Regions from separate parts of the Homo sapiens genome. Here region 2 is linked to region 1. A link means that fine-mapping ties the variant in region 1 to the expression of a gene that starts in the linked region. Tissue or cell type: regulatory T cells. Region 1 holds a variant in brackets; the other region holds the start of a gene. All regions are shown on one strand. Distances are between the middles of the regions.

The links. PIP is the estimated chance that this variant, and not a neighbour inherited with it, causes the effect.
Region 2: it holds the start of NHIP, and the variant in region 1 is fine-mapped to the expression of NHIP in regulatory T cells (Schmiedel 2018, PIP 0.95).

What each region holds. Positions count from the first base shown.
Region 1 is chr22:48,283,393-48,291,498 of GRCh38, reverse strand. No RefSeq gene overlaps it. Among named protein-coding and RNA genes, the nearest start is that of MIR3201, 13 kb to the right of the region's middle. The variant A/G (reference allele first, on the strand shown) is at 3,399.
Region 2 is chr22:49,048,508-49,056,613 of GRCh38, reverse strand. It overlaps NHIP (neuronal hypoxia inducible, placenta associated), which reads left to right and starts at 4,229. Exons shown (of 4, transcript NR_183584.1): 1 at 4,229-6,258; 2 at 6,411-6,858; 3 at 7,151-7,219. RefSeq lists an enhancer at 4,183-4,262 and a silencer at 7,851-8,007.

The DNA of each region.
Region 1 (8,106 bases):
TCAGCCTCCCGAGTAGCTGGGATTACAGGCCTGCACAACCACGCCCAGCTAATTTTGTATTTTTAGTAAAGACGGGGTTTCTCCATGTTGAGGCTGGTCTTGAACTCCTGACCTCAGGTGATCCACCCTCCTCGGCCTCCCAAAGTGCTAGGATTACAGGTGTGAGCCACTGCGCCCGGCCTAGAAATATCTTCTATTTCTTGTCTCTCTCTTGTTCCAGAGGTGCAGCCCTGAGGCTTTGTGTGAGGCACAGGCGGCCAAGTGCTCAGATGAAGGCCATCCCAGGGCAGATCCAGGCTGCTCCACGTTGACATAGCCAAGCAGCTGGTGCGTAATAACGCACACCAAGTGTCTCTGCAGACATTAGGACTTTTAGAGCAAAGCTTTTAATATTTTCCTTGAAAAATCTTTGATCATTTTGCAAGAGAGTGCTCATGAGAAGTTTTGAGTGAAGCGTGCTTCCTCAGTACCATTCTCAGTACTTGGCTTACCGAGGGTCTGGCACCCATTCTCACTAATGTTTCAATGACTAATTACAACTTGGAGCAAAGATGTTCAAATTTTGGAATGTGTCAGAGTCTCCCAGAATACGTGATCAAAGATCCAGATTTCTAGGCTCAATCTCCTGATTCTGATTCAGCAGGTGTTGGGTGGGGCCTAGGGATCTGAATTCATTGAAACCCACTGCCCAAAGTTGTCACAAGTCATTGATTCATCAGCTATACTCATTTAAGTTAATTCTGAAGGCCTAGGAAGCTGAATTCGTTGAGACCCACTGCCCAAAGTTGTCACAAGTCATTGATTCATCAGCTATACTCATTTAAGTTAATTCTGAAGGCCTAGGAAGCTGAATTCGTTGAGACCCACTGCCCAAAGTTGTCACAAGTCATTGATTCATCAGCTATACTCATTTAAGTTAATTCTGAAGGCCTAGGAAGCTGAATTCGTTGAGACCCACTGCCCAAAGTTGTCACAAGTCATTGATTCATCAGCTATACTCATTTAAGTTAATTCTGAAGGCCTAGGAAGCTGAATTCGTTGAGACCCACTGCCCAAAGTTGTCACAAGTCATTGATTCATCAGCTATACTCATTTAAGTTAATTCTGAAGGCCTAGGAAGCTGAATTCGTTGAGACCCACTGCCCAAAGTTGTCACAAGTCATTGATTCATCAGCTATACTCATTTAAGTTAATTCTGAAGGCCTAGGAAGCTGAATTCGTTGAGACCCACTGCCCAAAGTTGTCACAAGTCATTGATTCATCAGCTATACTCATTTAAGTTAATTCTGAAGTCAATAATGCATGAACTATACAGAATAAGCTTGCTGTTTTACAAGAAAAGCCACGTCATCAGATTTATATGGCTCTTTTCTTTTTCAATAAGTCTTTGTTTCACACTTTATTCTTAGAGTCTAGCTCATTACCTGACCCATAAGAAGTCTTGATAAAGATTTGTGGACTGACTGGGTGTGTAACTGCCCCAGAATCTGACACCCAGAGGGTGCTCAGAACAGACACTAGGAATGAAATCAGGGCATCTATAGCACATGGTTCTCACTCAAGCAATGCCCAGGGACACTAAGTGAGGTCATCAAAAAAAAAAATTCAGCCATGAATGATGGCTTGGCATGACAATGCAAAGTGAATGATCATGTGTTAGAGACAAACTTTTAAGGAACTGTTATTTCTCCATTTTTCTATATTCCTTGTGTTTGCTAACTCATTTAATTAGATCATGTGCCATAAAGCAAAGTTCTTAGTCTATAGTACCTTAAAGTTATTGCCAAGTGTAGCTGTCAGTATAGACCTGGTTATGCTGTGATAACAAAAATGCCCCTGGGCCAGTGACTGAACCCAGCTTGCTTCTCACTGAGTACGTAGTCAGGGGCTGCTGTAGCCTCAGAGACTCAGGTTCACAGAAGAGCAATCTATCCCTGTGCTTTCAATAGCAGTGCCGCAGGAGATAGAGCATCATGGCCCTGAAAATGTTTGTCCGGAGCTGATACACATCAATTCTGCATACATTTCACTGGCCACAGGTTGAGAAGCAGACAACCTTCCCCACATCGTAGCAACAGGCTTCCACCCTACCTAACTGGCATGCAACCGTTCTGGGACACACATCTTTTGGTCTCTACCCATTCCAAATCATTTTCCCCTTCCCATCTTCATCAGTTTTTTGGGGGGTGATATGCTCCCTCCTCTTGTGCAGGTGAGGTTGATGCCTTCCCCAAAGCCCCAGCATGATCATATGCCTAAATCCTGGCTACTCAGAGACACAGTGCTAGGCCCAGGATCAAACCTGCTGGCTGAGAGGCAGCCCTAGGACTTTTGGCTGGACCATTAGGAAGGGGTGTTGCCTTCTACCTGAACTTGACCTCCTAGAAGGATAGAATCTTGTTGTCACCTGTGGGAAAGCCTGTCCATATACTGATGTGTCTCAATCTTTTCTTATTATTGACCCATGAAGTGATTTTTAGACAATTTTACTGCAGTCACTACTACCCACTTGTTATGTTTTAATAGTATTTTATATATATATATATATATATATATATATATATATATATATATATATATATATATTTTAATATACTGGGGCCTTTTGTGGGGTCCCAAAACCATTATAATAGCTAAGATTTTTTGCCCAGTAAGAGCTAATTTTGCCCCATTGTGGGAAAAGTCATCCCTGTTAGCATTTTTTCTGTAAATGAAGTCAGTTGGGAGGAAGGCAGAGCAGGAGGCCCTGAGGACGCCCGGGAGTCTGGATCTAGTGGTGCCAGAAGATCAGTCTGACCTTGAGACGTTCCAGTTATTCAAAACAATAAATTCCCTGTTTTGTTAATTGAGTCTGAGTTGCATTTCTGTTGCCTTAAGGGAAACAGCCCTTAATAATCCATAAATGTTTAAAGCATGCTATGTGAACTAAGGATCAGTGGTTCTAAAGTCCTCTTTCTTCCCCACCTTTGAACTAAGTCCTCCCTGACTCAGAAGCAGCTCATTTATGGCTATCCTAATGCCACCTTTCCATCTGACCTAATGATACCCACTTCACAACATCAGGTTCCTTTAATTCTCCTTCATCATGCCTTATTGGGCACCATCTTTAATCAATACATCTCCTCTGTTATAAATTGATCACTCGATCGGTTAATCATTTCCCTCAGTTTATCTGCGTATCCATTCACCCAGCTATCCAATTATCCATCACTCCCTCCATTGATCCACCTATACCTAGTTCCTCTTTCACTCACCCTTCATCCGTTTCCCATTGCTCCGTCCTCCACCTTTCTCTCCCTCTGGCCATCTGTCCCCTCCACCTCACAATGTTGATCTTGAGAAAATCTCCAGCGATTTTTCTCATTGCCAAGTCCATTAGTCAATGCTCTTATCACAGA[A/G]GATCCCACGGCAACACTGGATCCAGCTGACCCTTCCTTCTTTTCGCCGTTTTCCTTTTGGATTTTCTATCAGTGTGTTCTCCTGGTTTATTTTCTCTTCCCTGGGCTATTCATCGCACCCACTTTGCTGGCTCCTCTTTTAATTGATATTTAAAGGTTGGAGTACCTCAAAGTTCTTTGTCAACATCTATAATTCTGCATCAAGAAGCTGACATAACATCTCCATGTGCATGTAAAATGTGCATTTCAGGCTTAACGCTGGCAACATAGAAATTCAACTTTTGTTAACCCGCACTTTTATTTTTTCAATGCTCGTCTTCCCGGATTGATAAACCTCATCATTTTGCAATTGTTTAAGCCAGAAATCTAGGCATGATCACTGAATTCTCTGTCCTTCAGATGGCTTGAGCAGTTTTTTGACCTGGGAAGCTGACTTTTCCTGCAGAATACATCTTGAATCTCTCTGCTTCCCTCCCCCTGTCTCCGTTGCTGGCATTTTAGCCCCAGTCACTATTATTCTTACTTCACCTTAGACTTGGCCTTCGAGTTGCCTTCCCTTCTTGCTCCTCAATCCCTTTACCATACAGCAGCCAGAATGATATTTCAAACTCCCCTGATGACAATTATCCGATGGTTTCCACAACACCTAGAAGAAAATCCCAGTTCCTGCTTTCCAGAGCTCTGGGAGGGAGGATAAATAAAGCTGCAGAGCTGAGTCATGTAAATATTGAAATCTGTACGTGAGATACCGCAGGAGCCACGGCAACCCCAATAATAATCACTGGCTTGTATTTTCATGACACTTTAGCATTGACAGAAGCCTCTCCTGGTCCCTCTCCTGCAAGGAGCTGAGTGTTTCATCCTGGGCGCTGTCCATCTCATGTCCTTCCTGACTTCCCCATGAAAGCTGACATATGATGCTGTCTCTTACACCAGACAGTGGATCCTTAAAAGTAATGGCTGGGACTGTTTAATTGTTTCATCTTTGTAAACCTGACACAGTTTCTCAGTATATATGTTTTTCATTAACAGACTTATTTTTTTAGATTTACAGACATATCGAACAGAAAGCACAGAGTTCCCACATGTGCCTTTACTTTTCTCCATTATTAAAATCTTGCATTAGTGTGCTACATTTGTTACTATTAATGAACCAGTATTGATACATTGTAACTAACTAAAGCCCATAGTTTACATTCCGGTTCACTCTGTGTTGTGGGTAAAGCTCTCTGGGCTTTAACAAATGCAAATGGCAGTTACCGCCGATTGCTGTGCTTCAGAACACTTTCATCACAAAAAAATCCGCCGTGCTCCACATAAAAATCCGCCGTGCTTCACATAAAAATTCTCTGTGCTCCACATAAAATCCCTTGTGCTCCACATAAAAATCCCCCGTGCTCCACCTACTCATCACTCCTTGCCGTAGCTCAGACTTCTGGCTAGCGCTGAACTTTTACTATGTCCATTGCTTTGCCTTTCTCGGAATGTTATGTAATTGAAATCATACAATATGCAGCCTTTTCAGAGTGACTTATTGCACTTAGCAATACGCATTTAACGTTTCTCCATGTCCTTCCATGGCTTGATAGCTCATTTGTTTTTAATCACTGAGTAATATTCCAATGTGAGGCTGTATCCATTCATCTATTGAAGGACATCTTAGCTGCTTCCAGTTTTGGCAATTATGAATAAAACTGCTATAGATAGTTATGTGAAGCTTTTGTTTTTCTAAAGACACAATTACTAATTAACTGTGTGGTAAGAGTATGTTTAGGGCCTGTTTACCTTTGTGAGGAGCTGCTCAACTGTCTTCCAAAGTGGCTGTACCATTTTGCATCTTACCAGCAATGAATGAGAGTTCCTCTTACTCCACATCTTCAGCAGCATTGGCTATTGTCAGTGTTTTGGGTTTTAGTCATTCTAATAAGTGTGTAGTAATGTGTCATTGTTGTTTTATTTTGCAGTTCCCTAATGACATATGATATTGAGCGTCTCCCTTTATGCTTACTTGCCATCTGTGTATCTCCTATGGTGAGATGTCTGTTCATTTGAAAATTGGGTTTGTTTGCTTATTGTTGAGTTTAACGACTTTGGGAAATTGAGTGAAATAATTTCTCTGTATATTTTAAGTACAAGTCCTTTATCTGACATGTGCTTTGCAACAATGGTTTCCAAGTCTGTGGCTTGTCTTTTCATTCTCTTAACAGTGCTTTTCAGAATAGAAGTTTCAAATTTCAATGAAATGCAACATATCAATTTTTTTCTTTCCTAAATCATACTTTTGGCATTGTATCTTAAAAGTCATCTCCAAGTCCAAGGTTCCCTGGATTTTCTCCTGTGATATCTTCTAAAAGTTTTATAGTTTTGTATTTTCCACATAGATCTACAATCCATATTGAGTTAATTTTTGTGAATGATGTAAGGTCTGTGTCTAAATTCATTTTTTTTTTTTTTTGCATGTGGATGGCCAATTACTCCAGCAATTCATTGAAAAGAGCAGCCATTCTTATTGAATTGCCTTTGCTTCTTTGCCAAAGGTCAGCCGTGTTTGTGTGGGTCTATTTCTGAGCACTCCGTTCTGTTCCATGGATCTATTGGTCTGTTCTTTCTCTCATACCATGCTCTTTTGATTACTGCATCTTTATAGCTTGTCTTGAAGTTGGGTAATGTCAGTCCCCCAGCTTTGTTCTTCCTTTTTCAGTAATGTGTTGACTCTTTTAGGTCTTTGACTTTCTATATAAAATTTAGACTCAGTTTCTCAATATCCACAAAATAACATACTAGAATTTTGATTGGGATTGCACTGACTCTGTATATCAACATGGAAAAAATTGACATCTTAACAATGCAAGGCAGGTGAGCCCCAAAATTGGGGCTTAGCCTGGGAGGGTTTTGGCTTTGCCCAGGAAAGAATTCAAGGGTGAGCTGGTGGTGTTAAATAGCAACTTTTATTGAAGTGGACGTGTACAGCAACAGCAGAGGTGTTGCTCCCTGCAGAGCAGGGCTACCCCATAGGCAGTGTGCCCAGAGCAGCAGCTCAGAGGCAGTGCTGAAGGCATAGTTATACCCCCTTTTAGTTATATGCAAAATTAAGGAGCAGACAATGCAGAAATTTCTAGAAAAAGGGTGATAATTTCCAGGTTGTCAGGCCATTGTCATGGAAAAGGGCAGTACATTTTGGGTGTTGCCATGGCAATAGCAAACTGACATGGTGCTGGTGGGCGTGTCTCACGAAGAGGCGCTTTCACCTCTTCCCTGTTTCCTGTTTCAGCCAGTCTTCAATCTGGTCCAGAGTCCAAGCCCTGCCCCCAGAGTTGAGTCCTGCCTCCTACGTCATTAACAATATTAGGACCTTTTATCCATGAAAATGGAACATCTATTTATTTTGGTCTTCTTTTATTTCATAAGTTTCTTTTCCTTCCATAATCTTGAACACATTTTGTTAGATTTATAGTTAAGTATTTCACTTTGGGGGATGCAAATGGAAATGACGTGCTTTTAATTTCAAATTCCAGTTGTTCTCGTAGATAGCATATATAGGAAAGCAACCACCTTTTGTATGTTGACTTTGTATCTTGAGACTTTGCTTGATTGATCATGAGTTCTGAGAGGGGTGGGTGGGGTGTGTGTGTGTGTGTGTGTGTTTATTTAGAATTTTCTGTATAGACAATCATGTCATGTGTAAACAAGCACCATTTTATTTCTTCTTTCCCAGTCTGTATACCTTTCATTTTTTCTTGTCTTATTGCATTAACCAGGACTGCCACTATAATATTAAGAGCAGTGGTAAAGAACTAGAGTTGACAACTAGTAGTGAGCACAAAGTTGTTCATAACATGTCTTTATTATATTTTTAATGTCCATGGGATCAGTAGGGATGCCCTTTCTTTCATCTCTGAGATAAGTAATTTGCCTTTCTTTATTTCTTGGTTAGTCAGGCTAGAGGTTTATCACTTTTATTGATCTTGTCAAAGAACCAGCTTTTAATGCCATTGATTTTTCTGTATTGATTTCCATTTTAAATGTCATTGATTTCTGCTCTAATTTGTATTAGTCTTTTCTTCTGCTGATTTTAAACTTAATTTACTCTTCTTTTTAGAGCTTCTTAATGTGGAAACTTAGAATATTGATTTGTGATCTTCTTTTTTAATATATGCATTCAGTGCTATACATTTCCCTCTAAGCATTGCCTTCATTACATCTTGCAAACTTTGATAGGTCGTACTTTTATTTTCCTCAAAATACTTTACAGTTTCTCTTGAGATTCCTTTGACCCATGTGTCATTTAGCAGTGTGTTATTGAATCTCCAAATATTTTGATATTTTCCACCTAGCTTTTGTTATTGATTTCTAGTTTAGTTCCATTGTGGTCTAGAAAGCATACTTTCTATGATTTATATTCTTTCAAATTTGCTAAGGTGTGTTTTGTGGCCCAGAATGTCTATCTTGGTTAATGTCCCATGTGTGCTTGAGAAGATTGTGTATTTGGCTGTTGTTGGGTGAAGTCTTCTATAAATGTCAATTAGATCCAGTTGATTGATAGTGCTGTTTAGTTCAACTATGTCCTTATGATTTTGTGCCTGCTGGATCTGTCAGTTACTGAGAGAGGGCGTTGAAGTCTCCAACTTTAATAGTGGATTTGTCTGTTTCTCGTTGCAGCTCTTTGAGTGTTGCCTCTCCTATTTTGATGCTCTGTTGTTAGCTGCAT
Region 2 (8,106 bases), 770 kb before region 1:
GGCCCTGCAACCTCTGTGAGCCCTGCCCGCAGGGTCCAGGCTCCCAGTGTGACAGCAGACAACACCAAGGGTGCCCCAGCCCAGCACATGCAGCTGGATGACACTTCATGTCTGCAGTGTATGAAGACAACACCAAGGGTGCCCCAGCCCAGCACATGCAGCTGGATGACACTTCATGTCTGCAGTGTATGAAGGCAACACCAAGGGTGCCCCAGTCCAGCACATGCCGCTGGATGACACTTCATGTCTGCAGTGTACGAAGACCAGGAAGTGTCCAGAGTCACATCCAAAATGAAGGAAGTTTTATCCAAAGTGTCGCTATGGTTATGTCAAGGCGAAGGGTGTCTTAGTTTGAGCTGCAATCACTAATTACCATAGACTGGGGGCTGAAACACTAGGCATTTATTTCTCTCAGGTGTGGTGTCTGGGAAGCCCAGGATCATCACGGTGCTGACTCGGTGTCTGCTGAGGGCCCCCTTCCTGGCTTGGAGATGGCGCCTTCTCGTTGTGTCCTCAGTGGCAGAAGGGAATCATTTATCTTGTGTCTCTTATTCCAAGGTCACTAATCCTATTCGTGAGGGTTCATGACCTCATCACCTTCCAAAGGCCCCATCCACAAATAGCGTTACACTGCGATTAGGGCTTCAACAGAGGGATCTGGGGATTCACAATCATTCAGTCCATAATAGATGGAGAGAAAGAAAGGGAGGGAGGGAGGGTAGGGTGGAGGGGGCAGAGGAAGGGAGGAAGGAAGAGGGAGGAAGAGAGAGAGAGAGGGAGGAAGAGAGAGAGAGAGGAAGGAAGAGAGGGAGGGTGGGAAGGAGAGAGAAGGGAGGGATGGAGGGAGTGAGATGAATTTCCCTTTGAGAGTGATGCAGGTGCCGTCCCTGGTCCTCATCACAGAGGCTCCTGTAGAGGGGTCAGCCTGGGTGCTAAGGAGACCAGAACCCCGTGTCCCTATGCTCAGTAGAGGGCAGGGCACCGCTGGCCTGCAGTTGGGAGGTCCCCATCAACCCCAGCTTCCAGGAGACAGGGCCGGGGCACTCTCATTCACCATTGTGTCCTGAGTGCCCAGACATGATGGCACTTACTCAACATGGATGAAACGGAGAAGGACTTTCAGAGAAGCAGGAGACTCCTCTCCTGTCCCTGGCCCTGTCTCACTTTACGTGTCCCACATCTTTTCTGAAAGCCACCAGCCCACCCAGCTCCAGTCCTTCAACCTTTTCCAAACGTGTCACAAGTTCTCCAGGAATTACCTTCAAGCTTTCTTTTAATAAGCATTAATTTTGTCTTATTTTTAAATTGGCTCAGCTTGAGCACGGGTCAGAATGGAGTTTTTCATTGGCCCTCTATGAAACCTCAACAGAGAAACCTTGTAAAATGGGAAGGAGATTGTTGGAGTTAACATGTTGTGTAGGTTTTGTATAGTTGTAGAGGGAGTTAAAGTTACTAGGTACATTTAGATGTTGATAGGTTTAGTGTAGATATTATGAAATTTAGGTGTAATTGCTTAAAGAATAGAAATGATGTATACTACCTAAACCAGTAAAAAGCTCAAGAGAGCGACGTCTTAGAAGTACGGGTAGTACAAAGCCCTAAGTAAGGTTGCATAACTGAATTTAATACATTGTTAACTAAAAGAAATGCAAGTAAAGAAATTTATTAGAGAAAATATAGGAAATCTACCTCCCCAGGTGTCTACACATATGTAAAACATGCATTGTTGACAAGAGACATATCAAAAAGAACATAACATGGAAAGAATGAAAGCAAGATACAGAAAGTATGAGAAAAACACTAACCCAAGCAAGGCTGGAATCGCCCGATTATACCAGACAAATAGATATTAAATCAAACCACATTATCAAGAATAAAGAGAGCCACTGCATCACGAGAAACGAAATTATTTATCAGGGTCATAGCATAATTGTGAAACTTAGTATATTAACATAATTTCAAATGGATGCAATGGATAAAAACTCAAGGAGAAAAACACGAATACAAAATCATGATGAGAGTGTTCGACACAACTATCAATCCTAAAGTGGCTACACAGACCCAAAATTAGTAGCGAAGGATTCTTGTCAAGATAATTAATAAGTTTTCTATAATAGCTGCTTCAAATCTGTGAACCTAAGAATCAAGCATTCATGAGACATTTAGAAAAATTCCAACAATTACTAAAAAAATAAGTATTTATGGACTACATTCTCTGAACTCCACATATCGAAATTAGAAATAATGAGAAAAACAGCCCCATAAATATGGAACCATAAAAACCTATTTCTGAAGGAATCGTAAATCAAGGAAGATTACAATCAAAATTTGAAAATATTTGAAACACAATGACCACATAAATGCTGCATATTGAGACTTCTGGAGTGAATGCAGAGAATGCTTCACCTAGGAAGGGTCAGCAAACTGTCTCTGTGGAGGGGCAGGTAGTAGTGTGCTTGAGGCCTATTGCAAAGCAGGTGACTAGCAAAACTGTCTTGTGGAGGGGCAGGTAGTAGCATGCTTGAGACCTACTGCAAAGCAGGTGACTCTGGTTAACAATAATGTGTTGTATATTTCAAAATAACTAAGAGAATCAATGGATATATTAATTGGCTTTAATTAATCACTCCATGTTTTGCACATACATCCAAATACCACATGGCATTTCACAAGTGCAGATGATGATCATTTCCCATTTAAAAATATTATTACTAATATTTTTTACAAACAAAAATAAAAATATATTTGGCTTTGTGGGATAGTCTCTGTTGCATCTCCTCTTCTCTGCTGGATTGGTCAGAAAGCGAACACAGGCAGTATGAAAATGAAGAGGTGTGGCTCTGTTCCCGTAAGCTACGGTTAGCAGAAATCCCTCATTTACATGAAAATGTGTCACCTTTAACATATGTAGGAAGTAAGAAAAACTTTAAAATAAAGCTTGACTTAAAACATCAGAGAATAACAGAATAAACCTAAAGAAGCTAATGAATAGAAAATCTATAATTATGTCCTTAAATTCATAAAAACAGACACCAAGAAATAACAGAGAGGACCACTGTCTTATTCTGTTTTCTGCTGCTGTAATGAAATGCCACCGGCTGGGTAATTTATAAAGAAATGAGATTTATTTCATTCGCAGTTCTGGAGACTACAAAGTCCAGGACAATGGTGCTGGCATCTGGCAAAGGTCATCCCATGGGAGAAGGATGGAGGGCAGGAGCCAGGGCCTGAGTCCGAGCAGGAGAGGCCAGGCTCACTTTAGAAACCCCACTCTTGAGGTAACAAACCCACTCTCTCGATAATGACATTAATCTGTTTATGAGGGTGGAAGCCTGATATGGTTTGGCCGTGTCCTCACCCAAATCTCATCTTGAATTGTAGCTCCCATAATCCCCATGTGTCATGGGAGGGAGCCAGTGGGAGGTAACTAAATCATGGGGGTGGTTTTCCCCCAGGCTATTCTGACAGTACTTTCTCACGAGATCTGATGGTGGTTTTTTTTTTTTTTTTTTTTTTTTTGAGATGGAGTCTCGCTCTGTTGCCCAGGCTGGAGTGCAGTGGCACGATCTCGGCTCACTGCAACCTCTGCCTTCTGGGTTCAAGCGATTCTTCTGCCTCAGCCTCCTGCCTGGACTGGTATAGACACAAATGTGCTAACACTGAGTCTGAAAACACTTCCTTGGATCTTGGATCTAAACTCTCACTGCTTCTCTTCTGATTATAAACCATTTCACAGCCCCCGGCAGTTCAGAAGGCCCTGAGCCCAGGCGGGAACTCAGACTGAATTGCGATGTCATTCAGGCATTAAAAGCACGCATGGGCTCAGAGTGCTGCTTGCTTGACGTTTCCCGTCTGTGAAGCAATTTTATTTAAATTCTACGCAAAATAGAACCCTTTGCTCTTCTTCCCAGAGTCCTGCCCGGTGGGAAGTTCGCTGGAGGCGCAGCAGGGAGCAGCCTGGCTTTTCCTACGGGGTCATTAGAAGCCTCGCTGGGAGAATTTCCCAAATATTTTGCTGTTTGCTCAAACACACTTTTATATTTTGAATCCAGGCATTTGAGAGAGAAATCTGTAGCGTCTGAAGCATGGGTCTGTGGTTCTCAGCGGAACACACGGTCCCAAAAGGCCCTTCCCAAGATGGCCGGGGCTTCCGCCTGCCGCCCTCCCTCCCGTGGTGCTGAGCGCAGGCTGGGCGCGGCCACATCACCCTAAGGGCGTGGGTGTCGGAGTCTTGCAGGCTGGGGTCCCAGGTGAGAGATGCCAGCAGGGAGCTCTAGATGGGGAACTGGGTGAGCCTGGCTCGGTAAGGGCGTGCTCAGAACACCCCATCCCCGAACACGGTCTTGTGTGATAAAATGTCACGCAAGAAGAATCTGAAACCGCGAGAAGAGGAGGACACGGCCAGACTGCACCGAACCCCGGCACCTCTGTGGGGAAAAGCAGGTCAGGCTGAGCGGGGCCGGCGGGGACACGCGCTCCTGGGCTTCTCCAGAGTCTGCCGGGGCCGGGCCCGGGACCGAGGCTGGGACGCGCTGTGCAGTCCCACCCCTCACACCCCTCGCACGCCTGGAAACACCCTCGGGGTAACACAAGCCGGGGTTGAGTTTCTTGAAGAGAAGCTGGCTGCATCCTGGAGCCAGGGAAAGAGGAGCACAGGGGCCAAGCGGTCCAGGGCCACGGAGGAGCAGGACCCCTGGGGAAAGGCCCGGGTCTAGGCCGGGGCCAGGGGACCGTGGTGGAGACCTCAAAAATGGCAGAACACGGAAGCAGGGCGAGAAAAGTAAACGTAGTCCTTGCGGCAGTTTGAAATACACGCGGGTAAACGCTGGGTGACTCCGCCCGGATGCAGAGTGGGGGTCTGTGTCTCTCCCCACAGGCTGCAGGGACCGGGCTCTGGGTAACCAGCAGAAGGTAACAGAACGAGGCTGCTTTTCCTCCAGGCTGTTCTGGTGTCCGCGCGTGGCTTGTGCGCTGACTCCTGACTTGGAGCGCCGCGTGGCCAGAGAAATCTGGGTGCCTCCAGGCCACCATGGTGAGAGGAGAGGCCACCGCACGAACGGAAGAAGCGATGGAGACGGTCTTTACGACCTAAGAACAGAAAGAGTTTCTTATACACAATCCGAAAAGTAAAAATTGATTGATTGATTGATTGAGATGGAATCCCACTCTGTCGTCCAGGTTAGAGTGCAATGGCTTGATCTCGGCTCATTGCAACCTCCGCCTCCCGGGTTCAAGCGATTCTCCTGCCTCAGTCTCCCGAGTAGCTGGGATTATAGGCGCCCGCCACCACGACTGGCTAATTTTTATATTTTTAGTAGAGACGCAGTTTCACCGTGTTGACCAGGCTGGTCTTGAACCCCTGACCTCAGGTGATCCGCCTGCCTCGGTCTCCCAAAGTGCTGGGATTACAGGCGTGAGCCACCGTGCTGGGCCAAAAATCAATTTTAAAACGACCACATGAAAAATAAATCTCCTGTATCACAGAGCATGTTCTGAGGAAAATGAAAGCCACAGATCCAGAAGATATTTGTGACACATATGAAAAACAAAAACTCATATTCAAAACATACACAGCATTGCTATGAATCATTAAGAAAAATGATTTCGTCTCCTCTACAGGAGCCTGAGTGAAGGACAAGGACAGATCATTATAAACCAGGGAGCTTGAAGAGCTAGTTAACAAGCACAGAAAATATGTTCCCCCACACTGTTAATCAAGAAAATTAAAACTGTAATGAGATGCCGCATTGTATCCATGGGATTTCTAAAAGTACAAAGTTCCACAATACCCGTTGTTGACGGAGCAGGGAAACCGCAGGAGCCTGCAGGAGATGAGATTGTAAATGTGCAAGGACATTTTGGAGAAGAGTTGACAACATCTCACTCACGTGTATCAAGCCAAGTGCCGAAAGAAGAATTGGTTGTCATAAAGAAAACAGAAACCCAGAATGGATGTAGCTTATCCCTCCGATGGAAAGTTACAAAGAAGTTAAAATGAATGGGCTGCATCTCTGTGTAACAATTTGGATCAATATCAAAGACACATTTGTTAAAGCAAGGTGTACAATGAAACCTGCAACATGATTTGTCTGTTTAGTAAAACACAGAAAATCTAACTCCGCCTGGCTTACGAACACACACATGTGTTAGAATTTGGGAAAAGGAAAGGGAGGGAGGCCGGCTACACGTGAACTTTTGGAAAATCTCAGAGGGTCTGGGGCACCAGGTGGAGACCATGGCAGCCTTCAGGGATATGAGGTGAGTCCTTCAACTACATTTGCAAGGTTTTATTTCTTAGGAAAATATTTAAAGCAAATATTTCAAAAATGACTAAATCTGAGTGGTAGGGAGTCACTGTTTTATAGATTATTCACTTTTCCCTGGGCTTGGAATGTTTCGTTTTTTCAAAGGTCAAATGAGATGCTGCCTTTCCACCAGATAAAGATTTACCTGGTGCCTCTGTTACTGCCCAGCAGCGCCTGAGGACGTGGGGGCTGCTGCCCAACACGGAGGCTGGGCTGGCCTGGTCCGTGGGCTCAGGTTCTCATCCTCTGCACGTGCATCTGCCTCCTGTGCGTCTCTGTGCACACGCTTGTATCTGGATGCAGAGTCCTGTGCCCAGTGTACATGCACAGATGTGCGCATCTGGGTAGATGTGCTGGTTCGCTGTGTGAGCATGCACAGACCCTTGTTCACCGTGTGTGCGCATCCGTGCAGTGTGGACATCTGGACAGGACCCCGTGCTCCCTGTCTCTGCCGCTGAGATGTTTCCTAGCTGTGCACAGAATTCACTCTCCTACTGGAGGGCTCTGACTGAAAGCTCTGATGCGGCAGGCCTTCTCTTGACACTTGGTTAAGGTATGCCTCTCACATCTGTATGCCCACATCTGCTCTCCTCCCTCCCTCCTTCTCAGCACTTAGCCCTCTGATATGGTTTGCTGGCGTCCCCACCCAAATCTCATCTTGAATTGTAGTTCCCATAAATCCCCACGTATTGTTCGAGGTACCCCGTGGGAGATAATTGAATCATGGGGGTGGTTACCCAGATGCTGCGGTTCTCGTGTTAGTGAGTTCTCGTGAGATCTGATGGTTTTATAAGGGGCTTTTCCCCCTTTTTCTCGGCACTTCTCCTCGCTGCCGCCACATGAAGAAGGATGTGTTTGCTTCCCCTTCTGCCATGATTGGAAGTTTCCTGAGACCCCTCCAGCCATGCTGAACTGTGAGTCAATCAAACGTCTTTCCTCCATAAATTACCCAGTCTCGGGTATGTCTTTATTAGCAGTGTGAGAATGGACTCACACATTCTCCTAATGTAGTATACATGTGTTTGCTCATTTGTCACCATCTCTCCATCTCTAGTCTCTAGAATATGAGATCTGTAAGAACAGGGACACCTAGAATACGAGATCTGTAAGAATAGGGACATTGTCTGTATCAGGTGTTCATGGCTCAATCCCAGCACCTGGAACAGCATGAGGCACCTGGCAGGTGCCTGACAAACATTTGCAGGGAATATGTGTGCATGAACCTGCATGGGCAGGAACAGGTGCATAGGAACATGGATTGTGGACGTGCATGTATGTGCGTGCATATGTATACCACTATGTATACGTAGCTTATTGTGTCTTTGCAGTGAGGTTTTCAAACCTCTGTCTTGTTTCCAGGATTTCCTGAAGACACCATCCCAGTCAAGTGGTCTGCCTCATACTGAGCCACCAGACCACCCAGCATGTCCTCACCCGCGTGGACAGATGACAGGGGGCTCTGAGCATGCCCCAGTGCACCTTACGCACCTGTGAAGGTTGGGAGCCTGAGTGCAGCTCCTGTGGCACTGCCCGTGGCCAGGGAGATGCCTCCTCAGTGCTCCTGACCCTCGGTGGAGGACCGGCCAGCGTGTGTGCCGACAGTGTGTCCACACAGGTGTGCTGCGCCCAATGGGCAAGTCGGAAACAAAGGAAAATGCTCTCTGAAGGAAAAGGCAAAGCAATTTGGATTTCTGCGAGAAAATGAGACTGCATGTGGCACTGTAAATACCCTTGCTGCTGAACTTCTCGCTCCCCCCAGATACACCCTTCATATTGACATGTCTAGAACCTTAAACTGAAC